Linked DNA regions of Homo sapiens: regions 1, 3 and 4 are each reported to be linked to region 2. The links are microRNA targets in miRTarBase. Many come from high-throughput screens and were not tested one by one. Region 2 holds a microRNA gene; each other region holds the end of a gene's coding sequence.
The links. Region 2 holds the annotated microRNA hsa-miR-3622b-5p (AGGCAUGGGAGGUCAGGUGA, at 3,553-3,572, shown strand). A microRNA usually pairs through its seed, bases 2 to 8, with sites in the 3' UTR of a target mRNA and lowers its output. Matches are read on the target gene's strand: a 7mer-m8 pairs with bases 2 to 8, a 7mer-A1 pairs with bases 2 to 7 and ends in A, and an 8mer does both.

Region 1 (7,117 bases), not on the chromosome of region 2:
CTGTGGTAAGGCTTCACACATACCTGGTTCTTAAAATGGCCAACAAGTATCAAGTCAGGTCTACCTCCCATGGTCTCCATGCTCCTCTCTGAGGCCATCTCTTCCCTAATTCCAAACCCTCGGAACTGTATTTCATCCACTAAAACACTGGTTTTTGCTCTTCACTAGTTCTTCCCTGACAGGTGCAAAGTCTTCTGATTTTTCTCCTTGTTTCCTACACATTCTTCCTCCACAAAATCCATGGGCTCTTGTCCATGAGAGCAGCTCCTGTGACAACACCAAGTTCAAAGTCCTCTCTTTTTCCACCTAGAAGTAAACTAATCACCTCATGAAAGGGTAACTAACTTCTGCTGTAGATAAAGACATATCCATCCTTCCTATCTGAAACACCATTAGCCACAGACCAGCATGCCTAAATGCCTAAACAGGTGAGAAACTAAAGAAAAGGTGGTATCTGAAATCTCAGATGACAAAATGTTACAAAGTAGGCTTTTTTTGAAGGGAGGAAATCTCCAAAAAAGTGCAGCAGTCCACCGAGGGCAATGTGGTCCTGATCCCTTAGACGAGTGCAAGATTACACTCTTCTTCTAGGCAGATGTCTCAGTTCCCAAATGGGGACACTGAAGTATCAGACCTTACTGCAGACCAGGATGAAGCAATAAAACTTACGACTAACTGGCCTCTGAAGCTTAGCCTGTCCAGGGCAGTGGTGGGAAGTTCCCATGAGATGCCTGTTCATTATGTCCAGAGGCACGGATCTTGCTTAAAGTCAATGCCTTTCCAACTAGCCCCTCAAACAAACTTTCAACTTAAAGTTAGCAAAGAAAAAAGATGACCACTTTGTCCAACAGAGTAGGACTCACAGGACTCCTGACTCGTGATACCTAACCATCAGCTATTGAGAAACTTCATAACCACATATGGACAGACTCATGCCTGCCTATCGGAACACCATGCATCACACACACTCCCAGGACCTGACATGCATAGGCGTATAACCCAGAGCATATATTCACCTTCTCTAACCGGACTATACTTCGCATCTATCCTGAGACTTGGCTGAGGGAGAGGAAAAGAAACAGGAGGCAAAGAAAACAAGACCAGCCACTCAGGCACCACCCTTGGCCGATACAGTCCCATGGTGCTAGACAATAAGCGACATCTCTTGCTGTAACCACAGGCAAGCTAATCCTCCACCTGAGGCCTCCTTTTCTTCATGTGTAAAATAAGGGACCCAAGGTTCATTGCAGCTAGCTGTAATACTCCTGACTCTCAGGCCTCTACCAGTTCTCTACAGACAGGTTGCTTTCTGTGAGAAACAGAACCAGCAGAGAGAGGCCTGGTAGAGTGAGAAGCAGGATGCAGAACAAAATCAAGGATTGACTTCCAGAAAGGGACATGGGGTTCATATTCTGATCACCCAGTTTCCCTAGAAATGTTGTCAGATGACCCCTGGGACAGCAGGAAGACCGAGTAACAAACTGGGCTGGATTGTTGGCCCGAAGCAGCTCCTAGAGGTCTGGGCATTATACCACTGGTACTCGCTATCCTGGCAGGACCCTCACTAACACCAGTGATGACAGTGAAAACAGTAACCTGCCCAAGACCAAGAAACCACAGAGACCTCAATTTACACATGCACTTTCCTAAATGACAGGTCAAGATCTAAAACCCTAGCTCAGATTACGGTTCATCGATCTCCACCCAAAGGCACCTTCAGCTCCTCTGCCAAAGCAATGCAAAGTCTTGCTGGCCCTCTTTGTCATCGCTTGGTCTTGTGAGCAATTTCAAGCACTCACAAGTGAACCTAAAGAACTGAAATCCACAGGAAACCCAAGCTTGATCCTCCTTATTCCAAAATTCTAGTTAGTGAAGTTGGTGTTTCGGGTCCTTTTACTTCCTCTGCTCATTCCTAGTGTGGGGATTCATAAAGAAATGGTCAGAAGGCAAAGAGCAAGTGGTTGGAAGAGGGAGAATAAAGACCCTGAACAAACACCACATAAACAGTCTTCCAGCTTAAACTGTCAGGATCCAACTTCCTGGCAGGGGCTGTTGAACAATCTCAAAGCACCCTAAGGACCCAGGGGACCTATCTCTCCTATCTAGGACCATAATCACTATGCATCATCACAACATTGCAGCCACACAACAGATAAGTCAACATCTTTAAAATGATCACCTTCAAAAACTATGGGAAGACATATTATTTCTACTATGAATAGTCCCTCCTTATAACCAGGCATCCTCTTCTCTCAAATGGTTAATAGCCATTCTTTCTTCTCCCTAACCCAGAGAGACCCAGGTGAAGTGTCTGGTTCAAGGAAGCCTGTGCTTCTCCAGTTGATACATCTTGTTCAAGAGGGAAAAAAAAGGAAACCCAGGGTGGAGTTCTACATTCAAAGGTAAGGAGGCCTGGAGGATGGAAGAATTTGAGCAGCCACAACAACCAAACGATCAGAAAGAGAGGACTATTTGGGCAGACCACTGCTACTTGACAGAGCTGGCAGCCGGCTGTAAGGAACAAGGGGGAATATACACCCTCACAAACAGGATGAGGGGGGAGGAGGAGAAGCAGGGATGAAAGCGACTCCACTGCACTGAGGCCTTGCCTTTGCGCTCCATGGGCTGCCCCAAGCGAGCACGCCACACGCAGGAAGCCAGAAGGGCTGGAGGGAAGGGGAGGTGGCGACGGCAGACCACAGAGACACCAGGCCTCGCGTGGCGTGCGGGGAGTGCACACGGGGCCGAAAGGCGTGCAAGGGTGGGGTGGGCGTGCAAGTGGCTTGGCGAGGGGTGGCAGGCGTCACCGGCAGGGCCTGCGGGGCAAGGGCCCAGGGCTGCAGGGGGCGTGGGAGCGCGCGGGGCCGCGCTCAGAGGGGCGCGCAGGAGCTGGTTACCGTGTGGTTCACCCCCCACATCAGGACGCTGAGGATCGGCTCGCTGGCCCGGAATAGCTTCACTTTCTGGCACACGAAATGCTTCTTCTTGGTCTTGGTCTTGCTGGCGCTGAGCGGCGCCACCGCCACCGCCGTGGTGCTGGTGCAGTTGGACGACATGCCCGGGGCGGCGGCGGCGGCGGCGAAAGAGGGGGGCGGCGGAGACAGCGCACAAGCCAGCGGCCTCAGGCCTCCCCCGGACCGATCCCCACCCCCGCTCCCTCACCGCGCCATGGTCGCGCCCGTCCCGTTACCTCCCACCCCGCCCCGGTGGTTCCGTCCGCCCCACGCCCCGCCCTCCCGCCCCGCCCCGGGGAGCCCGCCGGCCCGCTCCGCACCCCGCCCCCGGGCGGTGCAGCCGCCCTGCAGTCCCCTGGCCCCGTCCTCCCCGTCCGCGTGGTACGGCCCGTCCCGGGGAGGCAGCGGCCGCCCCGCCCGCCCCTCCTCCCCGGGCCTGACAGAAACCCGCCTGGCCTCCGAACGCCTCGGGGCCCCGTGCCGGAGCCGGAAGGGGAGGAGGGCTGGGCAGGCGTCGCTGTGGACCGCGGGAGGGGCTCCCCGCCCGGGCCCCCCAACGCCAGGGTTTGGCTCTTTCCCGCAACCCGAATGCCAAGATGGCGGCGATGCCACCGCTCCGGAAGGGAAGGAGGGACGGGAATGCGAGGAGGGCGGGACGTACCATGCCCACCCCGGGGGAGAGGAGGGACGCAGCAAGGGGAAGAGAAAGTCCAGCCTAGAAAGCCAAGGAACGCCCCCTCGCTCCACCTAAGCGTGGATCTGCCCACTCTGCTGGGCCCCGGGCGCGCTCCACCCGCGGGGCACGCCCCTTGCCCCCAGGGCCAATGAGAGAAGCAGGCCAGGAACACTGGTTTTTATGAATGGGCCCCGCGCCCACCCACCTGCTGCCTGTTCTCCCCGCAAAGGGTCAGAGCTCAGAGGCCGCCAGCACCTTCAGACACCTATCCCACTAATCGTCTTACTCTGGCTCATTTCGTAAAATCTTTGAGTAAACTGCCCCACGCTTTGTTACATAATTCTCAGATGAGGGATCTCCATATATTCGACACAAATTACAGGTCAACGTTGTTCTTTCTGCATGGAAATTCGTAAACACGGTACTCCACAGGTGGTCGCTCTTTAAACAGTTACAAAAATAAATGTGGCCTTTATTACCAATTATAAAATAAACATAATTAACCCCGGCATAATGAAGTGATTAAATGAATAAAAACGTATGTTACATTCTCTAGGGAAAGATCGGGTTTCAAGCATTACAGTGCCTGGCATCATAAGTGTTCAAAAACAGAAATCCAAATACATTTTAAGCAGAATTAGGAATTAGCAGAACAAGGAAATCGCCCAGCTAATGTGCGGGTCAAGAGGGCCTAGGAGTTCACTGGTCAAATGAGGGCTTCTGGTGAAAGAATAGAGAAGGGAAAAGGAGTAAAGACAGGAGAGTGGCCCCTCGAGGGTTTTGTTTTGTTGCTGTTGTTTTTTGAGACGGAATCTCGCTCTGTCACCCAGGCTGGAGTGCGGTGGCACAATCTCGGCTCACTGCAAGCTCCGCCTCCTGGGTTCACGCCATTCTCCTGCCTCAGCCTCCCGAGTAGCTGGGACTACAGGCGCCCGCCACCACGCCCGGCTAATTTTTTGTATTTTTTTAGTAGAGACGGGGTTTCACCGTGTTCGCCAGGATGGTCTCGATCTCCTGACCTCGTGATCCGCCCACCTCAGCCTCCCAAAGTGCTGAGATTACAGGTGTGAGCCACCGCGCCCAGCCTGTTTTTTGTTTTTTTTTTAGTACCTGACTGAAAGAGACTAGCAAACAACTCCTGAAAATCTGTAATTGTAGTAAGGTTACTACACGGTAAGAAGTGAAGCCGCAAAATAAAAACTTCCATTTTATTTTCCTTTAGGAGCCATGGAGCATATTGGCAATTTGGTTCTGACTCCTAAAATCATTTTACTATACCTTTACACTGCCTACATTGGAGACTGCAAGCAGTGGAAAAGAATAGATACTCCAGATCTCGTCGATAAACCCAGGCTCCTCCTAAACCAGCCAGATTCAGAGAGAAAAACGAGCTGGCCTGCCTTATTGTATTACTTGCCATCAAGGTTCAATGTGGTTCTATTACCCAGTAAAGTCATTGACCAAACAAGGTATTTTCACAAAGCTAACCTTTTTTAAAAGCATGTAAAAATTGTACATTTGTACATATACGCATTACAATTTTACATCCAAAGATCAAATAGTTAACAGTTCATTTAGGGCTTTTTGTATTGTTTGATTTTCCAGATTCTGTCACTCCCTTGGCTTTGACCTAACCTGACATCATTCTGTCACATTATCTTCTAAATCAAGTAAACGTTCATTTGTCTCAGTAAGCACAATCTATCTGGGTGACACCAGAGAGGTTTCTGAAGGGTCTGGTGTACGCTGAGGCAGTGAAATAGGTCTGTTGGCACAGGTAAGAAGGAAGTGGCATGATAAACATCACAACCCCAGGGAACAGCCTTCCAGAGTGGCACAAGCACTCCCACCGAGATGGTCCAGTGCCCACCCGTTAAAGAGTCAAAACCCAAAGTTACTGAGTGTCCCACAAAGCAAGTCACACTAGCTCTCAAAGGAAGTGAGCTGTTTCAGGACTCAATGAAGCAGGGTCACTTTGAACACTGGTGGTTTGACATCTGTGAAAGAAGTCATTTGAACTCTTATAAAGAGAATTAAGGGGTCAGCAGCTTCCCTGGAAAATGCAGGAAAACCAATAAGAGAGGGGACAGTTTTCATCTTTTCATAAAGTTCTTCTCCAGAGCTACCGAAGTTCTCTGTAAAGAGTAGATATTCCGCTTCACCCGATCCTCCAGGGAGGAAGTAGATGCACTCTCCAGCTTCATGCGGCTAGGAAGAGAAGACAGGCAAATGCAAGTCAAAAACATTTTCAATCAGTCAACTATTCTGGCAGCTTCAGAAGAAATGGGTTGTTAGCCATAGAGCAGCTGTAAAAACACAACCTCTTTTAAGCTCCCATAGATAACTTTCGAGTGACTCCACCTGGAACCAAATGTTTTTAAACCAGTGTCCATAAGGGAAAATGTATCTGTTTTGGAAAATAAGTCAAAGCCTCATTGGAAAAAGGCTTCCTGGGCCATGAATTCTTATTAAAAAGGAAGGTCAAGGAATTTCAATGATTTAGAAAATACCAAATTCACTTCTCCTCCCCTCAAATGAAAAACATCCCACTGTGTGGTCAGAAAGGAAGAGTAGTAGCCAAGGTGGTCTGAAGGCTGGGCTCCATGTGCAAACACAGAAACACTGGAACGGGAACCAGCTGCCAGCCTGCCTCTTAAGACCTTCCCCATGAAAGACCCTGGCAGGAAGAAGATGCACTCACTGGATGAACTTCCCATCCCGGGAGTCCAGCTTCTCTAGCCTCTGCTCCCGTTCCTCATCCTTAGCATGCCTCTTGAGGATGTTCAGTCTCTCCTCCTCCCTCCATTTGGCGTTTTCCATCATCTCTTGCCGTTTTCGCTCTAATTCCTCTGCAGAGAGTTTTCTGTTGAGCACAGAAACCATACGATCAGGTCTCTTCCAGCAAAAAAACCAGAAGCAGCACAAGAAGCACAGAAGCCAGGTGGGACCCCAAGCTCTCCAGTTCACTGCTCTCTCCAAGTGCAAGGCCAGCCTGAGTTCCCTTCTAACGTCCTGGTCAGGAGGTTTCATCCAAATTTCAAAGGCTTTTAGTAAAGTATTCCATAATCTCACTCAGTAATCTCTAGAGTGATTATTCTGAAATATGAAATATGAAATAAATTGGGAACTCATCAGGAACCTAAACTTGTAGCAATTATATCCCAATGGTTTGCTCAACAATTGACAGAAGAACAGAAGACTAGGTTATCCATGTAACTGTTAACATCTACCATCTAACTACCCATTGGAGACTAGAAATTCATGACACAGCCCATGAGTACACTACTTTAGGACTAAGCTAGAAGCCAGAAGCTGAAGGAATAACTTAGCCTCAGAAAATAATAAATAGGGCCAGGCATGGTGGCTCACGCCTGTAATCCCAGCACTTTGGGAGGCCAAGGCGGGCAGATCACCTGACGTCAGGAGTTCGAGACCAGCCTGGCCAACATGGGGAAACCCTGTCTCTACTAAAATTACAAAAATAAGC
Region 2 (7,117 bases):
AGTGCCTGTCACAAGAGACCCCAGCCCTGGAGGGAGCCAGGTGGGGTCACCCCCTTTCTCTACCAGGCTCCTTCGACCTGCCCCTCTTTCTCCTCTCCCTTCCTCAATACCCCATTGGAACATGCATTTTCTCTCCCTCTGGCACCCAGAGAGACACAGGCTATGAGAGTTTTGATGGGGGATGCAGGGTGGAAAGTGTGAGGGAGGCAGCATTTTGGTACCCTCGCTGATTGCTCCCTTAATGAGCTGTGGTGTGAGTTCCGTTTTGGCCAAATTCACAGGATGCTGCCCTCCTGGGGAGAAGTTGGGGCTGAAAGTTGAGATTATTTTGCAGCTTCTGAAGCAAACATCCACTCAGAAAACATGATGTCACCAAGGATGGTTGGATTACCCTGCAGGGCGCTGGCAGCAAAGACTCCCTCCCATCTCCAGCTCAGCCTCCCTCCAGAGAGGACACGTAGAACACTCATTTCCAAACAGTAGGCATGACGCTTCTGAAATGAGGTGCCCAGTGTCTTCTGTGTGTGCGTGTGTGTGTGTGTGTGATGGAATCCTAGAAACTAGTCATATGAAACAACCCCCATTGCAGACGCTCTGTGAATGCTGTTAGTAACCAACTAACTGTCTACACAGCTGGAACCACAGCTAGTTCAGGAAACTTCCCTCTAGTCCAGCCCAACCCAGGGTCTTTCACACGGACCTGAAGGAAGGTGAGGAGTGTGCTAACTTGATGACTGATACTTTGATATTTATTTTGTCTTTGCGAGGCAGCACTGAGATCCAGGAATCCGTGAAGATATTCACTATTTTAAAAAATTAAATTTATTCTTTAAAATTATTATTATACATTTTGAGGTGGGGTATTGCTCTGTCACCCAGGCTGGAGTGCAGTGGCATAATCATAGCTCATTGCAGCCTTGACTTCCTGGGCTCAAGCAATCCTTCCTCCTAAGTCTCCTGAGTAGCTGAGACTACAGATGCGTGCCACTAAGCCTGGTTAATTTTTTCAATTTTTGTAGAGACAAGGTCTTGCTGTGTTGCTCAGGCTGGTCTCAAACTCCTGGGCTCAAGTGATCCTCCTGCCTCTGCCTCTCAAAGCACTGGAATTATAGGCATGAGCTGCTGTACCTGGCCAATATTCACTCTTCTTGTTAATATTCTTTCTCCTTTCCCTCTTTCACTCCTTTCCTTTAGCTTTGACTTCTTCCTTACTTTGGATGTTCCTCTTTCCCCTTTCTCCCTTCCTTCTGCTTCCTCTTCCTTGCCCTCTCTCCCCTTAAGCTAATTACTTTTAACCTTTATTTATCCATTATTAAATGCCAGCCCCTCATCCTGCTTAACACCTTATGTGTAGTGTATCATTTCATCAAAACTCTTATTTTCCATTATGTTTTTTTCCCCACAGGTATTTTTTTCTCACTGTAAAAAAAAAAAAAAAAAAAAAAAAAAAAAAGTAGAAAGCACAGGTAAGCAAAAAACAAAAAACCACACACAAAACCACAAACTTTAAGTTACCCACAATCACATTGTTGCCATTTTGCTGTAGGTTCTCCCAGATTTCTGTCCAAGAATGAACCCTCCAGAACCTCCTAGGAGATTCTTTCCAGGTCCGGAGTCCTGGGTTTGTAGTTCAAGCCCCATCTTGAAGGTGCTGTGCAACCTTGAACAGATCCCCCCCAACCCTAGTCTCAGTTTATCCAGACTGCACCTGCATCCTGGGAACAGGCATGGCTGTGCGTTTGATAACCACACCCATTGCCGGTTGGGAGACCAGGTTTTTCTCTCAAGGGAGCCGCAGTCTGTTGCCTTTTGCCACCATTTTGCAAATCAGATCTCAATTCTGGGCCCACCCAGCCACCCCATCCTGTCCCCTCCAGCCTCACCCTGACTTCTCAGCTTTCACTTTTTTCTGCTGATGGGTTGGAAATTGCTACTCTCCTGTTTTCTCTCCACCTGCACTAACAAACCCCAAGTGCTGCCCCCAGCACGAATCCCTGGTTCCCGGGTCCTCTGCCAGGTGCAGGTGCTGCGGCTTCATGTTCAAAGGATTCTGGGCACTGCGCTTTCTCCCTTGATGTGCCCAGCCAGGCTGCGGGGATGGGAGGCTCCTCTCCTGTGCGGCTCAGGCTGTTTTTCTCCCCAGAGCCTTGTGGCCAAGTTTCCGTGGCCCTGTGCTCTGGACCCTGGGCCAGGGCTGTGGTGTGGGCAGCCTTGAGGCCCTGGGTTCCATGCCAGTTCTCGACAGGAAGGCCTTTCATGTGGGTGCCAGCTGGCCTCTGGGCCCAGCTTCGGGCCTGGCAGGGCCTGAGGAGGGAGAGCTGCGAGTGTGAAAAACACTTTCTGTTTGGGAGCTGGTTGGTGGGAAGGAAAGACAAGAGGGAGGGGGACAGGCAGGTCAAAGAGCTTACCCAGGTTTAGAGGAGCGAGGCCAAGGTGCCCCTGTAGAAATGAGGCGATTCGGCCTTTCCTCCCCAAAAAGAGGTCTTGGCAGAGATACAAGGAAGCAAAGTCTGTTGGGTGGGGATGGAAAACACTTTCCCAAGCCTGCCTTCACTCCCTCCCTCCCCCGGGCTCACTGAGCCTAATCAGGTCAAGCACGCAGCTCCCTGCCAGACACTGTGGCATTGTTTAAAGCCGCTGCCTCCCCAGTACCCTCTCCCCACAGAACTGAGTTCTGACAAAGGAGGCCCTGAGGGACAGGGCTGAGAGGACAGAGACCCAAGGTCCAGGGACGCGTCACTCCCCTATGGCTCGCTCTCCTTCCCACTGGTTATTGTTTTTCTACCCTGGACCCCAGGGAGAAAAGGAGCCAGGCCCTGGCAAACCTGAAGGCTGTTTGTGTTGACATAAAGGCACTTTCTGAGCAAACAGCACTGAAAGGTCAGCAGTAACCCCAGGCAGTGCCAGGACTGGGCAGCGGGTTTGGGAGGTGTGGAGAGAAAGGAAACTGTGGGCCACTTGGGGTCGGATGACTTCACCAGAAGAAGAAGAAAAGCCAGCCAGGCTGCAGGGAGGGGGCTTCCTGGAGATGGAGCCCTGGAAGACCTTGGCTACCCCATAAAACTTAAATAGGACTTGAAGTCAGTTGTTTATCTGCTTTCCAGAACACCAATGACATGGGAGAGAGGCTGGCGCCCTAGGCAGGACCCAAGCGAGCCTGGTGTCTGGGGCAGGATCTGCCACTACGCTTGGCTTTCTCACTGTAGGACTCAGTTTGCATGGGAAACCAAAGGAGAATTTCAAGTGTCCTACTCACACATATTCTAGCCTTTCAGGAAACATTTACTGAGCATACATCACCCACCTGATAGGGGGCTAAGCCTGGGAATGCTTTCAGAGATGAGTAGCACAAGGTCTCAGATAAGGTGACCCATTTTCCCCGTTTGCCTGGGCCTCCCAGTTTTAGCACTGAACATCCCTTAGCTCAGGAAGCCCAGGAAACCCTTTGGTTTGGGGCATACTTGGTTGGTTGGTCACCCTAGCATCAGTCATCAAGCAGCTCACGATCTGCAAACAATGGTAGACATACGAGTGATATAATAGAGGGTGCACAGGCATGGGAGGTCAGGTGAGCTCAGCTCCCTGCCTCACCTGAGCTCCCGTGCCTGTGCACCCTCTATTGGCTATGATCACACCACTGCACTCCAGCCTGGGTGACAAAACAAGACCTTGCCACTAAAAAAAAGAGAAAGAAAGAAAAGAAAGAAAGAGAGAAAGAGAAAGAAAGAGAGGAAGGAAGGAAGGAAAGAAAAAGCTACTTTTTGAATGAAAGAATGAAAAAGCATCTCTCAGCTAGGAAATGTCTTGCCATGATGACACCTGTGTTCAATGGGGAGCTACGAGAACATTTTAAAAAAATCTACTGTACTGAGGCATAATTTACATATAATACAATGCATACACTTCAATGTAGACTTTGATGAATTTTAACAAATATATACACTCAGTAACTGTTAAATCAATCAAAATATTTATAGCACCCCAGAAACTTCCCTATTTCTCTTTTGTAGTTAATCCCATCCTAACCATCCCATCCCAGGTAACCACTTACCTGATTTCTGTAACTATAGATTCATTTTAGTTTTTCTAGAACATCATCTCAATGGAATAATACAGTCTGTACTCTTTTGAGTGACTTCCTCTACTCAATGTGCTTTTGAGATTTATCCAAGTTGGTTTGCATATCACTAGTTTTTTTGTTTTTTTTTTACTGGTGAGTATGGATTTATCATAATTTTTCCATGCATTTGCCTATTGATGAACATTTGACTTGTTTCCAGTTTTTTGCTATTCTGGACAATGCTGTTGTGAATAGTATGTACAAATTTTGGTATAGAAAAACATTTTCATTTCTCTTGGGTAAAAACCCAGAAGTGAAATTGCTGGATCATAGGTTAAGTATGTGTTCAGATTTATAGGAAATCACCTAACTTTTCCAAAAGGGTTGTACCACTTCACAGTTTCACCATTAATGCATGAGAGTTCTCGTTGCTCCACATCCTCACAACATTTTGTATTGTTGGTTTTTGAAATTTTAGCCATTCTAGTGGTATCTCAGAGTGGTTTCATTTGCATTTCCCTGATGATTAATGAAGCTGGAACACTTTTTCATGTGCTTACATGGTCATTCATATACTTTTCTTGCAAAATGTCTGTTCATGTCTTTCATCTTTTTTTTTTTTTTTATTTTTGAGGTAGAGTTTTGCTCTGTTGCTTAGGCTGGAGTGCAGTGGTGTGATCTCAGCTCACTGCAACTTCCACCTCCTGGGTTCAAGTGATTTTCCTGCCTCACCCTTCCAAGTAGCTGGGACTACAGGAGCCCACCACCATGCCCAGCTAATTTTTGTATTTTTAGTAGAGACAGGGTTTCACCATGTTGGCCAGGCTGTTCTTGAACTCCTGGCCTCCAGTGATTTGCCCATCTCGGCCTCCCAAAGTGCTGGGACTTTCATCCATTTTTAATTTGAGCTGCATGTCTTTTTCTTATTGAGATGTATGAGTTCTTTATGTATCCTGAAAGCAAGTCCTTTGTCTCATATATGTATTGCAAATATTTTCTCTTATTCTGGGATTTTTTTTCTTTTCATGTTCTTAAAGGGATATTTTAAAGAATAGAGGGTTTTAATTTTGATATAATCCAATTTATCAAAATTTTTCTCTTATGGTTTGTGACTTTCATGACCATATTTCTTAAAGTCACAAAAATTATCTTATGTATTTTTTAAGAAGTTTTATAGATTTAGTTTTTACATTTAGGTTTGTGGTCCATATCAGATGAATTTTTGTGTATTATATGAGGTAATATCAAAGTTTGTTTTTTGCATATAAAAATCATTTGTTGAAAAGACTTTGAAATCATTGGTGTCTTTGGGGAAAATCAATTGATATATATGTGTAAATCTATTTCTGGATCTCAATGTGGTTCAATTGATCTATATGTCTGTCCTTACACCATTATCTCATTGTCTTAATTACTGCTGCTTTAGAGTAAGTCTTTTTTTTTCTTTCTGAAATTTTAAATTTTTATTTTTTGTAGAGTTGGGGTCTCACTATATTGTCTAGGCTGGTCTGGAACTTTTGGGATCAAGTGATCCTCCTGCCTGAGCCTCCCAAAGTGCTGGGATTGCAGGTGTGAGCCTCCATGACAGACCTAGAGAACGTCTGGATATTATGTAGTATAGGCCCTCCAACTGAACTCTTCTTCAAAATTCTGTGGATTTTCTAGATCCTTTGCACTTTTATATACATTTTTAGAATCAGTTTTGTCAGTGTCTTTAAAAACAAGGCTGCCGAGGCCTGGCACAGTGGCTTACGCCTGTAATCCCAACAACTCATGAAGCTGAGGTGGGAGGGTCACTTGAGCCCAGGAGGTCAAGGCTGCAGTGGACTATGATCATGCCACTGCACTCCAGCCTGGGTGACAGAGCAAGACTCTGTCATTTACAAAAAAGAAAGAAAGAAAAATAAGGCTGCTGGGATTTTGATTGGAAGTGTGTAGGATATGTAAAAGAATATAGGAAAATGAACGTCTTTTTTTTTTTTTAATTTTTATTTGAGACGGAGTCTTGCTCTGTCACCCAGGCTGGAGTGCAGTGGCGCAATCTCGGCTCACTGCAAGCTCCGCCTCCTGGGTTCCCACTATTCTTCTGCCTCAGCCTCCCAAGTAGCTGGGACTACAGGCGCCCGCCACCATGCCCGGCTAATTTTTTGTATTTTTAGTAGAGACAGGGTTTCACCATGTTAGCCAGGATGGTCTCGATCTCCTGACCTCATGATCCACCTGCCTCGGCCTCCCAGAGTGCTGAGATTACAGGCGTGAGCCACTGTGCCCAGCCATGAACGTCTTATTAATGTGAGTTTTCTTATACATGAACATGAGATATATATATAGATAGACAGATAGATAGATACCACTATATATATATATCTCCATTTATAAAGATATTTAAAAATTTCAGCAATATTCTGTACTTTTTACTATAAAGATCATGCCCATCCTTTACTAAATTCATTCCTATATATTTTATATTTTTATGCTGTTGCTAAATGATTACTTAATTTTAATTTTCTTATTTTTTGCTCCTAGTATATAGAGATGCAATGGGTTTTTGTATATTGGCCTTCTATATTATGATATTGGTAAATCACTTTTTAATAATTGCCATTTTCTTGTAAATTCCCTAGGATTTTCTATACAAACAACTATGCTGTCTGTGAATAAATACAGCTTTATATTTTTCCTTCCAATATGTATTTCTTTGTTTGTCTTATTTCGTTGGGGAGGACCTCTAGTCAAATAGAATAAAAGTGTTGGGAGATGAGATCCTTGCCTTATTTCTGGTTTATAAGGGAAAACATTTAGACTTCCACCATTAAATTTGCAATTAGCTATCCCTGGTGCTCTTGTTGTCATATCAACTTGACACATTATAAATCCAATCTCCAGTCTTATCTTAAAATAGTCTTAAAATAATCTTCCCTTACAATAGTCAGTTGTCTCTCAAGAGAATTCAGAGAGAAAAAAATCCATGCATTTTAATATTTACGTTCTAATTTACCACTTCTGCTGCTCTCCACTCCTTCTTGCAGATCCAAGTTTCTGTTTCCTGTTAATATA
Region 3 (7,117 bases), not on the chromosome of region 2:
GCCCCACAGCAGGTCCTGCCTCTGGGCTCTACCAGGGCAGGCAGCGGTGGGGGCAGGGCCCTAGGCAGCAGAGGAAATGGGCTGGGTACACCTTTTGAACTGGAAGTTCCAGGGAGATGGGGCAGGGGGCTGCCCAGTGGGTGGGAAGAAGGTGAGTTGGGGTTTCTTCCCAACTGGGAGTGGGCTCTGCCGTGCCCTGAGAAGAAGAGGCGTAGCAGGTGGCCTTGGCTTGTGACCTCTGAACAGGTGGTCCCCTGGGGTCAGCCAGAACAGGTGGTCCCCTGGGGTCAGCCAGGGCACTCAGCCTGGCAGCCCATTGTGAGAAAAGGTTCCTTCAGTTTGCTGGCCGTGCAGGGACCCTGCCTCACTGATGGAAATTGAGGGGTGAGTGGCCTGAGGTCACAGAGGGTCACAGCCCCACAGCCTCCCTGGGGCTGAGACCCCAGAATGCCTGAGATGGTGGTGTCCGCAGCCACAGGCTTGGAGCTTTCAAGGAACCTAATGGACCCCTCGGCCTCCATCCCTCTGCTGGAGTCTCAGGCCTGGTGTGAGCAGTGCTCTGGGACTCAGAGGGACCCCGTCCTCCCAGAGCCGGTGGGAGTGCCTGGCTCTTACTGCGAAGCCCCCACCATCCAGTCCTGCTCTGAGAGCCTCTGCCTGTCCCCCTGGCTTCTCCTGCCAACCTTGGGCAGAGGATGCAGTCCCCATGGCCTGTGGGAGGCAGGGCTCAGAGGAGCGAAGTCGCCACTCTGAGGCCACCAGGAGGTCCCTGCAGAGGGCAGAGGGGGTTGGAGTCTGGCTCAGGATCTGTTACACCTGAGCTCTGTGGAATGAGACCATCTCAAGGTCCTCCCAGCCCCTTTGAGACTCCTGCTCACTGCTGGGATCCATCTAGGCCTGGGGCCGTGGTGCCTTTGTGAGAATTGGAGCACAGCCATCTTCGCCAGATGAAAGGCAGAGCAGGGCTCCATCAGGCGCCAGGGGTCCCGCAGGCAATCACCCTCAGGCATCGACCACCCCCATCTGCCAACTCCTCCATCCTTCCATCCCCACCCCAGGTCCAGCAGAGGCGATGGCTGCGGCTTCCCAGTGCTCAGCACAAACTTGGCCTCAAGTTTCCTGGAAATGACTTTAGCAGCTTTTGTGGCCCTGGCCTGGTGGCCTTGGGAGCAGCGTCCCTGAGTGGCAGTCACTTCTCAGTCAGGCAGAGGCTTCTGGCCCTGGAGCATCCACTGGTTGGGGTGAGAGTGAGGCCTGGTAGACCCCCAACAGCCAAGCTGAGCCCTCCCATCTCCATTGACACCAGCCTGATCCACCCTCTTCTCTCGCAGGCACAGACAGAACAGAAGACAGTGGATTAGCAGCGGGGCCTCCTGAGGCTGCTGGGGAGAACTTTGCCCCCTGCTCTGTGGCGCCCGGCAAGTCCCTGTAACCTTGACAACAGGCGCATCCTCCCAGGCCACCAACCCAGCCATAGGCTCTTCTCTGTCCGCAGGGCTTCTGGGGCCAAATGGGTGAATCTTTGCTTTTAACATTGTGTGATTTCTTTTCTTTTTTTTTTTTTTTTTAGATCAAGTATAAGTTACTTTTGTAAGCAGAAAAATACTTTCAAACAAGAATAAAAGAAGCTGTTCGCTAGACCCCATAATGGGCAGGTTTTAAACATCCCAGGCTTCTGGGTCCTTTGAGGCTCAGCTCTGATGCCACCACCCCTGGGTCTCCGCACCCCAGCCCTTACTGGGCCCTTCCAAAGTGCCCCTTAGTCACTGCCCTCCCTGACCCAAGTCTCGCTTCCTCCATGAAGCCTCCCAGACTGACAGCTCCCAGGCACTAAGGGAGCTCAGGCTTGCTGAGAATGGTAGCTCCAGGATTCTGCTGAGGGAGAGGTAGGCCTGCAGCTCATGGGTGGGTTCAGGGAGGAACCTGACAAAAGCACATGCGGCCTGCCTGTCATGTTTTTTCCAGGGGATTTGTGGGCTGAGGAAACCTGAGTTCCTGCCCTGGCCCCCTGGGTGCCATCCCTGCTGGAGGGGAGATGAAGGAAGCACAGCTACCCTACTTGAGCTCCCAAGTCAGCGAGCCTCCAGGAGGCTTCCCATGAGTCCTCATTCTTTGACAACTGCCTCTGGGCTCAAGGCAATGTTAGGGTTTTGTTTGTTTGTTTTGAGGCGGAGTTTCACTCGTCGCACAGGCTGGAGTGCAGTGGCACGATCTGGACTCACTGCAACCACCACCTCCCGGGTTCAAGCGATTCTCTTGACTCAGCCTCCTGAGTAGCTGGGATTACAGGCGCCCGCCACCACGCCCGGCTAATTTTTATATATTTAGTAGAGATGGGGTTTCACCACGTTGGCCAGGCTGGTCTTGAACTCCTGACCTCAGGTAATCTGCCTGCCTCAGCCTCCCAAAGTGCTGGGATTACAGGCATGAGCCACCATGCCTGGCCCTGATTTTATATTCAGATGGTTTCTGTGTTCTCCACCATGCTTTCTCCTTTCCCAAGTGTTTTTTTGTTCGTTTGTTTTGTTTTGTTTTTTGAGATGGGGTCTCACTCTGTAGCCCAGGCTGGAGTGCAGTGGTGTGATCTCAGCTCACTGCAACTGCCGCCTCCCAGGTTCAAGCGATTCTCCTGCTTCAGCCTCCCAAGTAGCTGGGATTACAGGTGCGCACCACCATGCCTGGCTGTTTTTGTATTTTTAGTAGAGATGGGGTTTCACCATGTTGGCCAGGTTGGTCTGGAACTCTGGACCTCAGGTGATCTGCCTGCCTCGGCCTCCCAAAGTGCTGGGATTACAGGTGTGAGCCACTGCTCCAGGCCTGTTCCCAAGTACCCTTGGCTGTCTGTTCTTGTCAGATGTTAAGGACACCTGAGGATGTCAGGGCAGGACGTTTCGGGTGCAACCTCAAGAAGTGGGAGTGAGGAAGAGGAGGCCGGGGTGGGTCAGAGGGCAGGGTCACTGTGGGGCGCGTCTGCCCTGTACTCAGTGTGGCACCATCGGGCCCCTCCTGCTGTTGCCTGGGAAGCCTTACCCAGCAGTGAGGGGTGGCTGTGGAGCAGCAGGGCCGGGAGCGGGGGAGCATTTTTGCTGCCACCTTTTAGTGGAGTTGGGGGAATGACAAAGGTGCCCTGGGCCTGAGTCTTTCAGTGGCGCTGGCAGTCGGCCGGGAGGGAGACGCATACTGGGGAGCTGGAGCCTGCACACTGGGCCTGGCCACATCACTGTTTTCCTCACCCTCTGGTTTTATTTTGAAACATTTGGAGCATAAAAGTTGCAGGAGCACGCAGTGCATACTGTATCGCCCTGGCCTGGGTTCCCCGGCTCTCCTTCCCTCTCTCTCTCCTCTTTTTTCTCTCTCCCTCCCTCTGTCTCTCCTCCACACACTTCTCTTTTGCCAAACCATCCAAATGCAGGCAGCAGACTCCAAAACCATTCTGCCTGCACCTCTGAGCACACCCTTCCCAGTCATAGCCATGTTAATGCGAGTGTGCCTGAGAGGATCGCCGCTGGTTCCGTGATATCACCCAGCATCATCCACACCACATCCCAGTGAGCAGTGAGGACAAAAATGGCCAGGTTAGGACCCCATGTTGCCTTTTTTTGCCACCCATATCCCGGAGCCCCTCTCCTGTTCTTTATTTTTTATTTTTACTTTTATTTTTATTTTTTTTTCGAGACAGGGACAGGGTCCTGCTCTGTTGCCCAGGCTGTAGTGCAGCAGACCTTCCAGGCTCAAGCAATCATCCTCCCACCTCAGCCTCCTGAGCAGCTGAGACTACAGGCAGGCTACTTTTTTGAGTTTTTGAGGAGATGGGGTCTCGCTGTGTTGCCCAGGCTGGTCTCAAACTCTTGGGCTCAAGCGATCTTCCCATCTCGGCCTCCCAAAGTGCTGGGATTACAGGTACAAGCCACCGTGCCCAGCCTAGTGTTAGCAATTTGATATTAAAATTGAAATAATAGGCCAGGTGCAGTGGCTCATGCCTGTAATCCCTGCCTTCGGGAGGCTGAGGCGGGCGGACCAGCTGAGGTCAGGATTTCAAGACCAGCCTGGCCAACATGGCGAAACCCCGTCTTTACTAAAAAAAAATACAAAAATTAGCCAGGTGTGGTGGTGGGTGCCTCTAGTCCCAGCTACTCGGGAGACTGAGGCAGGAGAATGGCTTCAACCCGGGAGGTGGAGGTTGCAGTGAGCTGAGATCACACCACTGCACTCCAGCCTGAGTGACAGAGTGAGTCTCCATCTCAAAAAACAAATAACTGTTTAAAAAATTGCAATTATGGCCGGTCATGGTCACGCCTGTAATCCCAGTACTTTGGGAGGCTGAGGCAGGTGAATCACCTGAGGTCAGGAGTTGGAGACAAGCCTAGCCAACATGGTGAAACCCTGTCTCTACTAAAAAATACAAAAAATTGGCCAGGCGTGGCAGTGGGCATCTGTAATCTCATCTACTCGGGAGGCTGAGGCAGGAGAATCACTTGAACCCAGGAGGTGGAGGTTGCAGTAAGCCGAGATCATGCCATTGCACTCCAGCCTGGGCGACAGAGCGAGACCCCATCTCAAAAAAAAAAAAATGCAATTATGGATATCCATTCACATTTTAAATCCAAACACAAATTTTAAAACATTAATTTTTTAAATTAAATTGAAAATTTTAAAAATTCTGCCACTTTCTTGCTCCTTCACTTCTTGGGGACTTTGATGTACAGGCCCAAGCAGGGTTCCCGGGATCTAGTGGTAAACAGGTCACAACCCATCCCCCGCAGAGCCACAGAGGAAACATAGAAATCCCTGACTGATGAGTCTATGAACCTGAGGCTAAGGGCCACCGAGGAGTCTGGGTGCCGCGGGGTGTATGACAGAGGCCAACCCAGTGGGGGCCAGCCTGGGCAACATAGTGAGACACTGACTCTACAAAAAAATACAAAAATTAGCTAGGTGTGGTGGTGCGTGCCTGTAGTCCCAGCTACTGGGGAAGCTGAGCCAGGAGGATCACCTGAGCTCACCTATAGTCCAGCTACTCAAGAGGCTGAGGCTGGAGGATTGCCTGAGCCCAGGAAGTCAAGGCTGCAGTCAGCCATGATGGCACCACTGAGCTCCAGAGTGGGTGACATGATGAGACCCTGTCTAAAAAAATGTATATAAAGTGGATTTTTGTAGGAGGGGGTTGCAATAGCAGCTTACTTAGTTCACTCCATGCATCGACCTGGTATTGCAGTAGCTCCAAGAACGGTGCCCCCCGCCCATGTGTGTGGTTGCTGAGTGTAGATGTCATTAATTTTAATTTTGAAAAGGGGACAAAAATTACAAATTACCTCCAGTAATTCCACTACTTAGAGGTAAATTTTAAAAAATATATGTGTGTGTGTGTGTATATAATATATATACTCTGGCTATATATATATTTATATTTATACATATTTATATATATTTATATATATTTATTTATATATTTATATATATTTATTTATATATTTATATATATTTATATTTATATATTTGTATATATAAACTCTGGCTATATATATATATTTAGCCAGAGTTTCACTCTTGTTGCCCAGGCTGGAGTCCAGTGGTGCGATCTTGGCTCACTACAAACTCTGCCTCCTGGGTCCAAGTGATTCTCCTGCCTCAGTCTCTCCAGTAGCTGGGATTACATGCATGCACCACCACACCTGGCTAATTTTTTATTTTTAATAGAGACAGGGTTTCTCCATGTTGGTCAGGCTGGTCTCGAATTCCCGACCTCAGGTGATCCACCCGCCTCAGACTCCCAAAGTGCTACGATTACAGGCGTGAGCCACCGCGCCCGGCCAAAAAATATATATTTTTAAAATTTTTTTATTTTCAGAAAATCAAGGTGATGCCACACATTTGTTGTTGAGACAGAGTCTCGCTCTGCCGTCCAGGCTGGAGTGCAGTGGGGAGATCTCGGCTCACTGCAACCTCCGCCTCCCGGGTTCAAGTGATTCTCCTGACTCAGCCTCCCGAGTAGGTGGGAATACAGGCGCGCGCTAGCGTGCCTGGCTAATTTTTGTATTTTTAAGTAGAGACGGGGTTTCGCCATGTTGGCCAGGCTGGTCTTGAACTCCTCACCTCAAGTCATCCTCCCGCCTCGGCCTCCTAAAGTACTGGGATTACAGGCATGAGCCACCGTGCCTGGCCCACATATGTTTTTTCATAATGTGTTACAAATGTCTTCCTTCTTATGAATGCTGCACAACATTCTTTTTGCTGCTTGATGCCCACTGCAGGGATGCGTGAAATCCACTAGCTCCAGTGGCCAGACACATCCCGGTTGCCTCCAGGTTGTAAGCAATCCTGAAATAGCCTCGTATGTTCCTAGGACAGAGTTCTAGAAGTGAGATTGCCGAACTGGAAGAATGCAAGTTACATTCAACCCACGTCCTGCGAATGCCGATCTCTCCGGCATTTGTCAACACCTGGTTTTATCATCAAGAAGAAAACAGTAATAACGCGTCCTCCGCTTGGCCCTAGCGTGCACAGCCTCTGCGCTTTTCACCTCGAGGTCTCATTTTCCTTGGACAGCACCGAGCGCTGGGCAGGGCCTCATCCGGGTTCAGGGCCGGAATCTGGAGACGTTCTGGCCGATGCTCCTGACGGCCGGGAGAGGGCGCGCGCGGACTCAGCGGCGGCCCAGCAGCCTCCCCAGGACCCAGGCAGTGCTGGCAGCCAGGAGTGCGGTTCCGCCCCGCAGCCTCAGTCCCGCTCCGCCCACCCGCCTGACCCCCACCCGGGCTCCTTACGGCCCAGACACCGGCTCTAAGGTGGCTTCTGCAGGGATGGGAGGTGGGCGACTGGGAGGGGTGGAGGGGGCCTGTGTGTTGACCCTGCGGGTGGCAGCCGTTGGGAAATTGCAATGGCGTCCACACTGTCGCTGCCCAGGGCGCGAGCCGCAGCCTCTCCTCCCGTCTCGCTTCCTCCGACAGGCGCCCGACTCGGACACACGGCGCCCCTGTGGTTACCACATCCACTGCTTTTTGGTCTCCTCACCCAACCCCTTAACATAAACTCGACACCAGGGAAGGCATCTTGGACGATTTTGGTCCCTGAGGGTCCTAGTGCGAAGGGCAGGGAGAGAGGGAGCGGTGTGGTGCAG
Region 4 (7,107 bases), not on the chromosome of region 2:
TGGTGTTCCTCTTAGAGCCAAGATCTGAAGCTCTCCCAAACATAAAGCCCCTGCCTATACCAGCTGGGATGCCCCCCTTGCTTTATACCCACATCTTGGTTAGGTCTGGAAGATTTTAAGCACTATGAAGGCTTGTCTGCTGAGAACCTAGCTGGGCTTCAGAGCCGATGTCCTTTGATACACAGGGAAATTTGACACCACCCTCACCTCCAGGCCCCAAAAGGCCTGAGTCTGGGACCCCAGTCACCTCGGTACCCAAGCTCCTGACTCTTACCTCAGTCCCAACCCCTTGACAGGCACCAGGATCATCTACGACCGAAAGTTCCTGCTGGAGTGCAAGAACTCACCCATTGCCCGGACACCCCCCTGCTGCCTCCCTCAGATTCCCGGGGTCACAACTCCTCCAACAGCCCCTCTCTCCAAGCTGGAGGAGCTGAAGGAGCAGGAGACAGAGGAAGAGATACCCGGTAAGGAAAGCAGGAATTAAGAATTGTCCCAGCCTTTGAGTTCAAATGCCACTGTGACACAGTGCGGGGGTTCAGTTCCAAGAGGGGTTTCTGCACTGATGCTGAGCCTGCAGATCCTCAGACCAGCAACCTGTCTTCCTGCCTTTTCTCTCTCCAGATGACGCACAATTTGAAATGGACATCTAATCCAGTGCAGATGACCTGGCATGTGGAGTTACAGAGGGATCCCTCATGCCACTGCTGCCACCACCTCTTCCTGGGGCATCCAAAGGCCAGCTGGCCTCATCTAATCTGGAAGGGAGTGACTTGTTAGTTCCAGGCCTCCTTTAGTTCTGAGGCAGCTAGACCAGGGATAGGAGTGGGCAACTTGCCAAGCCCTTAACTCTACTTCCTCTTCAGTCTGTGGTACTCCTCCTAACCCTAAACCCTCTATGCTCAGGGGCTGGAACTGGGGAATGGAGTAAGTCACCTTCTGACTGCTTAGTAAACATTCAAAGAAATGCCTTGGCTCCAGTGTTCTCCTCAATGCTGATTTTCTCATCTCAGCCACACAGCTGAAGGCCCTGGCAGGCCTGGTTAAGCTCAGAGGCCTCAGATCATTCCCAGCTCCCACCAGGCCCACTTCCAGCAGCAATTAGAACCTGAGGCACGCTACAGTGGCAGGTTACATGAGCCTCCAAACCATAAACAGCAATAGCTTGGCCACTGCCAAGGGCTGTTCCTGTCTTCCCAGGAAGCAGCCTTCCTGGAACCAGGGCCCCCCAGCAGCCCCTCCCCTATCCATTCCAAAGCAGGACTCTTGGAAAAGAGGTGCTGTCCCAGCCTATAGCCATCCTGTCTCTCCCTGTGCCTTTTCTGCTTCCCACCTCTAAGCACCAGTTCCTCTATTCCAACACCAAAAACCTTGTACCCTTCTCACAGCATGATAGTCCACCAAGTACCTCTCTCAAAGGGTTACAAGAGACCTTAGAGTTCACACTGAAACCCAAAATGAGGCAGCAGTTTGTTTGGCAAGTCAGAGTTACAATCCCCAATCTCAGTAATCTGGTCTTTTTCTCCTTCGATTTACACAGAAAACCCCACTCAATGTGGTTCTAATCTCTGTAACAGTAGTATCTCAAGGGTGATACAGTGCAAATAGGACTGTCTTTCCTTTTGTTGAGGGAAAAGTCTCCCCGTTCTATTTGAGTCTGTTCTCATGCTGAAATGAAACCATCCAAACACAGCTGCTCCGCCCAGCACAGGATGTGCTTTCAGTCTACTTTGGGAAAAAGTGGTAGGCAGTAGTCTGACTTTACCCAGCAGATCCCTTCCTGATGAATGGAGAAGGGAGAACAGAGGTTTGCAGATACACAGGGAGCAGGGCAGTCGAGGACACCAGAGGGGACTAGCTTGGCACCGGAAGGGTTCATCTCTCCTACCCAAGGCCCACCGCAGAGATGTTTTTATTGAAATGCATGTTATGAGTAACACATGAACTCCCTCTGGCCCAGGTGGGACTTCTTCCCTCATAGGTGGGTCAGGCCCAGTGGGACAGTCTTGGTGGTGGTAAGAAGGGAGCCAAGTGACAGAAGGTCTCCAAGGCATAGGAGATGGTGTCCGGTGAGTCTGGGGAACCGAGGATTATGAAGCCTGCTGGAAGCCTGGTATGGTATGGTTCTTCTCAGCTGTGGCTGCAGATTTCTCTTCATTGGCTGCCTCCTCTGAAAACAGACTCCTCTTTTCTGCAATTAATCTTTTAACTCCTACCATCCACTGACTGACCTCAGTCACATGGTCAACCATGAGGGAGCGGTGGATGTCATCTGCTGCGTCCCACCGGTGGCTTGAAAGCTCTGAAGAGAGACGGGGGTTGAGCAAGCAGCCTGTGGTACAAGAGCTTCCATGCCTCCCCTCCCAGTCAATCAAAATCTCAGCACCTGCTCCAGCATAGCCAACCACAGCAGGAAAGGGATTTAGGCTATACCAAAGAACCCACCCATACCTTGCACCAGTAGAGCCATTCTCTTCTTTACAGGTATTGACAACTTTCCTCCAGCCCACTGTTCCTGCAGCAGTGCCAGGCGTCGGCTGATGTCATCACATACCTGCTTCTAAGAGACAGAAGCCCCCCTCCAATTCAGTGCTGCCAGCCCAATGAGGGGAGGAGAGGGGAAGACAGCACCACATAGGAAGCACCTGCTTTCTCTGGCCCACACTTTAGAATTCTGGTTCTTTACCCAAAGATTAGAGGCCCCACTGAGAAACTGATGAAACCTTCCTTTCCCTGCTGTCTTCTTCTGACACTGCCTGATGTTTCATTGAAAAGTAGAGGTCATTAAACAGGAATTCTCTCATCTTCCCACCACCAGTCTTCCTAACCCACCTCCTACTATGACTAGAATTCTAAAATTTCAGGGGCTTCTCAGACTCTCAGAAGCTCATCCTGTAGCGTTACTTCACAAAAAGAAAACTAAGCGCCAAAGAGGTGAAATGACCATGCTACTTTCCCTTTCTTTTAAGACATTCTTCAGATCTCTTTTTCTAAGAACTAAGAAAACACTATAGCTAGAAGAGGTTTCTTTCTCCCTAACTGGGCACAATATAAATTTCCTGAGAATAAAATCAGCAGCTTCTGCTCTGAATGGCATGGAGATACAGAAAATCAGGTTGTTCACTAATAGGAGCTGAATTCAACTCTTGTTCCCACAGCATCTTCTACTGATTGGTCTTCAAAAGTCTTATTAATGCTCCTGAAATCCTGTGTTCATTTCTTTGGGAAGGCCTTAGCAGATTCTGAAGGAGTCCGTAACTCTCAAAGGATTAAGAACCTGTCCACTGGGTCAGAGGGTCTATCTCTGGGAACCATTCCTGCATTTGGCTGTGGATGGGAGCCCTCTCTAACCTCTGATGTGCCAGAGCTTACCCTTGTGTGGCCACGGCAGTCTTCCAATGCCTGTTCCAAAGGTCTCAGCACATCCTCCATCACAGCCTCAGACTCGACTGGGAAACTTGTGGGCTCCACGCCAGAGGCAGGACCACTCCCCACAGGTGGGGACCTGGGAGCCTTACTTGAAGGAGGTGGAGGCCCCATTGGGGGAGGCCCAGGAGAAGTCTCTGATGCGGGGACTGAAAAGGTACAGCAGGATCAAGCAACATGGCTTAAATGGGTAAGAAGCTTAACTCTAAATTCACCCCTTCTAAGAAGGGCTACTCTCTGAGACAACTTATTCATTCAAAAATATGCATTTATGAAGTCCCCACTCTACGCCAGACAATATGCTAGGCACTAAAGATTAGAAAAGTAAACCAGGTGGCCGGGTGTGATGGCTCACACCTGTAATCCCAGCACTTTGGGAGGCTGAGGCAGACAGATCACCTGAGGTCAGGAGTTCAAGACCAGCCTGGCCAACATGGCAAAACCCTGTCTCTACTAAAAATACAAAAATTAGCTGGGCATGGTGGCACATGCCTGTAATCCCAGCTACTCAGGAGGCTGAGGCAGGAGAATCGCTTGAACCCGGGAGGCAGAGGTTGTGGTGAGCTGAGATGGTGCCATTGCACTCCAGCCTGGGCAACAAGAGTGAAACTCTGTCTCAAAAAAAAAAAAAAAGAAAAGAAAAGTAAACCAGGCCTGGGCACAGTGGCTTATGCCTGTAATACTAACACTTTGAGAGGCCAAGGTAGGAAGATCACCTGAGCTCAGGAGTTCAAAACCAGCCTACGCAATATAGTGAGACCTCATCTCTATAAAAAAATTTTAAAAGTTAGTCAAGTGTGGTGGCACACACCTATAGTCCTGGCTACTCAGGAGGAAGTAAACCAGACAGATTAAGTTCCTGACCTCAGAGAGCTTAATTCTAGAGGCAGGGAAAAAAACACAAAATTACTAAATTATGTTACATGCTACCAAGAAATAAAATGGTTTATGCAATAAAGAGAAATGGGAGAACCTATCTAGACTAAGTGTTCAAGGAAGGCCTTCTGAGGTACATTTAAGTTTATCTGAGCTCACTTGCTATGTGACTTTCAGCAAGTTACTTTCAACTAGAGCTTAGGTTCCTCTTCTGTAAAATGGGGATGAATATAATGCCACTTATTTCACAAGGTTGCAATGAAGATTAGGAATACAGGTACAGGCTGAGTGTGGTGACACATGCCTCTAATCCCAGCACACTGGGAGGCAGAGGCAGGAGGATCGCTTGAGCCCAGGAGTTTGAGAGCAGCCTGAGCAGCATACTAAGACCCTCTTAAAAAAAAAAAAAAAAGACAGCTGCTAGACTAGTATGTAGCAAAAAGTACAAAATGAGCTGTTTTTATTAAATTGAGAACTACCGGATGAGATAGATGCAGCTATGAAGAGTTGAAGGAACATGTACTAGGTCGAGGTTAGAGCAGTGCCCAAGAAGCAGGAAAACTTTTGATTTGTTCAAGAGACAGTAATGAGGCCTGTATGGCTAAAAATTATTACCACTGAAGAAAGTAGTATGAGCTATCATTAGAGAGGTAAGCAGAGGGTCCAGACCCTGTGGGGCTTTGGAAGAGTTTGATCTTGAGTCAATGGTACTGGGAAGCCACTGCAGGTTTGTAAAAGCAAGGGGTGATGTGACCAGACTTATTTTTAAACATGTATGCTCTGTGAAAAACTGATGAAAACAGGTCAACAGTGGTGGCAGGAACACCAGTTGAGAGGTTGAGTAGTTCAGGAAAGAGATAATGCTGGCATGGACTAGGGTAAAAGAGTAGACGAGGGGAATGGAGTAGTCTGAGATTTACTTAGGAGGAAGTAGCAACAGGAGTGGATTGAGAGTGAGGAAGAGAGAAGTCAAGGTGACTCGTAGTTTCTGACTTAGTAATGGGAACCACTAACAGAAAGAAGACTGGAAGACAAAAGTCAAAAGTTTACTTTTAGGTACCAACATCCACAAGGATGATTAATTCATCTAATAATTTGGTGTTTCAGTTGACCTCTTCACCTCCAGTGATCATTTTTTCCCACCCTACATCAGCCTGTCATCCCCCTGCCTTGTTCACACTATCACCTCCAAAATCTGATCACCCCCTTACCCCTTCCAGCTCAGCTACTTTGATTTCAATGTACATTAACATCACCCCCTTATAAATATTTTTACCTCCTTTATCTCCTCCCATTGTCCCACTTTCCTGGTTAAACCCAACTTGCTTGCACTTGGGAGGGAAAACAGAGCCATGCTGATAGTTTAAATTCATGGCCACAGATTTTAAAAGGTACCAAATACTGCCTGGACATTTTGGCTCATTTTTTCCACTCTTCAGAACTTCTCTTCCTTTCCTTGCTATCTTCTTCTGACACTGCCTAATGTTTCATTGAAAAGTAGAGGTCATTAAACAGAACTCTCTCATCTTCCCACCACCATTCCTCCTAACCCACCTGCATCTGTGGCCACTTTTCTTCCTCTTGTAATAGATGAAAAGGTTCCTGCTCCTATCAAAAGCCATCTTACCAGCTGTACTCTGCATCCTAGCCTCTCTTGTCTTCTCTAGACTTCCCTACTGTAACTATCTTCTCTTGCATCATCAGCTCCCCCTCTCTACTGAATCATCCCGTTAGTGTACAAACATGCTCTAGTATATTACTATCAAAACACTCCCTTACTTCATGTTCCATTTTCAGATACTGTCCCATTTCTTATCTCTGCAGCAGCATTTGAGTGAGCTCTTTATAGTCACTCTCTCTACTTTTCACATTCTCTCCTCAGCCCATTCCAGCTGTTTCTGTTCTCACTACTGCAGAGACTTGCTCTTGTTATGATCACGAGTGACTGCTATGTTTGTCAAATCTACTGGTTCCTTGTCGCTCTTTTTTTTTTTATTGAGATGGAGTCCCAGGCTGGAGTGCAATGGTGCGATCTCGGCTCACTGCAGGCTCCACCTCCCAGGTTCAAATGATTCTCCTGCCTCAGCCTCCCGAGTAGCTGGGATTTCAGGTGCCCGCCACTACACCTGGCTATTTTTTGTATTTTTAGTAGAGACAGGGTTTTACCACGTTGGCCAGGCTGGTCTTGAACTCCTGACCTCGTGATCCACCCGCCTTGGCCTCCAAAGTGCTGGAATTACAGGCGTGAGCCACTGCGCCTGGCCCCTTGTCTCTATCTTGATGTCTCAGCAGCATTCATTACTATTGATTCATGTCTTTACGCTCTCCTATTTTCTTTTTTTATTTTGGTTTTGTCACAGAATATCACTCTGTCGCCCAGGCTGGAGTGCAGTGGTGCGATGTCGGCTCACTGCAACCTCCGCCTCCCAGGTTCAAGCGATTCTCCTGTCTCACCCTCCCAAGTAGCTGGTATTACAGGCCCAGCTAATTTTTGTATTTTTAGTAGAGACAGCGTTTCGCCATGTTGGCCAGGCTGGTCTTGAACTTCTGATCTCAGGTGATCTGCCCACCTTGGCCTCCCCATGTGCTGGGATTACAGCCGTGACTCACTGCGCCTGGCCTCTCCTTTTTTCTTCTTTGGCCATTTCCCAATCTCCTTTGCTGATTCCTTCTCAACCTTGAAATGCTAGAGTGCCCTACGGCTCTGTCCCTGGCCATATTCAAGCCCATGACATCAAATACCATCCTTGTAATGGTGACTTATTTCTCTAATTCTGGCCTAGAACATTCCCCAAAAGTAACAGC

Region 1: the mRNA of CWC25 is a reported target of hsa-miR-3622b-5p. Seed matches in the 3' UTR shown: 7mer-A1 at 5,420-5,426.
Region 3: the mRNA of FLYWCH2 is a reported target of hsa-miR-3622b-5p. The part of its 3' UTR that is shown has no 7-base or 8-base seed match.
Region 4: the mRNA of EIF4EBP3 is a reported target of hsa-miR-3622b-5p. Seed matches in the 3' UTR shown: 7mer-A1 at 698-704.

What each region holds. Positions count from the first base shown.
Region 1 is chr17:38,796,369-38,803,485 of GRCh38, forward strand. It overlaps CWC25 (CWC25 spliceosome associated protein), which reads right to left. Exons shown (of 10, transcript NM_017748.5): 9 at 6,332-6,493; 10 at 4,073-5,838. The coding sequence ends at 5,724. It overlaps PIP4K2B (phosphatidylinositol-5-phosphate 4-kinase type 2 beta), which reads right to left and starts at 3,188. Exons shown (of 10, transcript NM_003559.5): 1 at 2,898-3,188. The coding sequence starts at 3,056. RefSeq lists an enhancer at 2,365-3,183.
Region 2 is chr8:27,698,181-27,705,297 of GRCh38, reverse strand. MIR3622B (microRNA 3622b) reads left to right here and starts at 3,531; the gene lies at 3,531-3,625. It overlaps MIR3622A (microRNA 3622a), which reads right to left and starts at 3,621; the gene lies at 3,539-3,621. LOC124901920 (a long non-coding RNA gene) reads right to left here and starts at 4,328. Exons shown (of 2, transcript XR_007060869.1): 1 at 1-4,328. It also overlaps a transcript of SCARA3 not described here. RefSeq lists an enhancer at 21-521 and a silencer at 2,019-2,164.
Region 3 is chr16:2,897,718-2,904,834 of GRCh38, forward strand. FLYWCH2 (FLYWCH family member 2) reads left to right here. Exons shown (of 4, transcript NM_138439.3): 4 at 1,332-1,648. The coding sequence ends at 1,432. Among named protein-coding and RNA genes, the nearest start is that of FLYWCH1, 11 kb to the right of the region's middle. RefSeq lists a silencer at 6,622-6,851.
Region 4 is chr5:140,548,610-140,555,716 of GRCh38, forward strand. It overlaps EIF4EBP3 (eukaryotic translation initiation factor 4E binding protein 3), which reads left to right. Exons shown (of 3, transcript NM_003732.3): 2 at 297-467; 3 at 625-967. The coding sequence ends at 653. It overlaps ANKHD1-EIF4EBP3 (ANKHD1-EIF4EBP3 readthrough), which reads left to right. Exons shown (of 36, transcript NM_020690.6): 35 at 297-467; 36 at 625-967. The coding sequence ends at 628. It overlaps SRA1 (steroid receptor RNA activator 1), which reads right to left. Exons shown (of 5, transcript NM_001035235.4): 3 at 3,373-3,575; 4 at 2,452-2,560; 5 at 1,459-2,302. The coding sequence ends at 2,091. Among named protein-coding and RNA genes, the nearest start is that of EIF4EBP3, 4.5 kb to the left of the region's middle. RefSeq lists an enhancer at 1-123.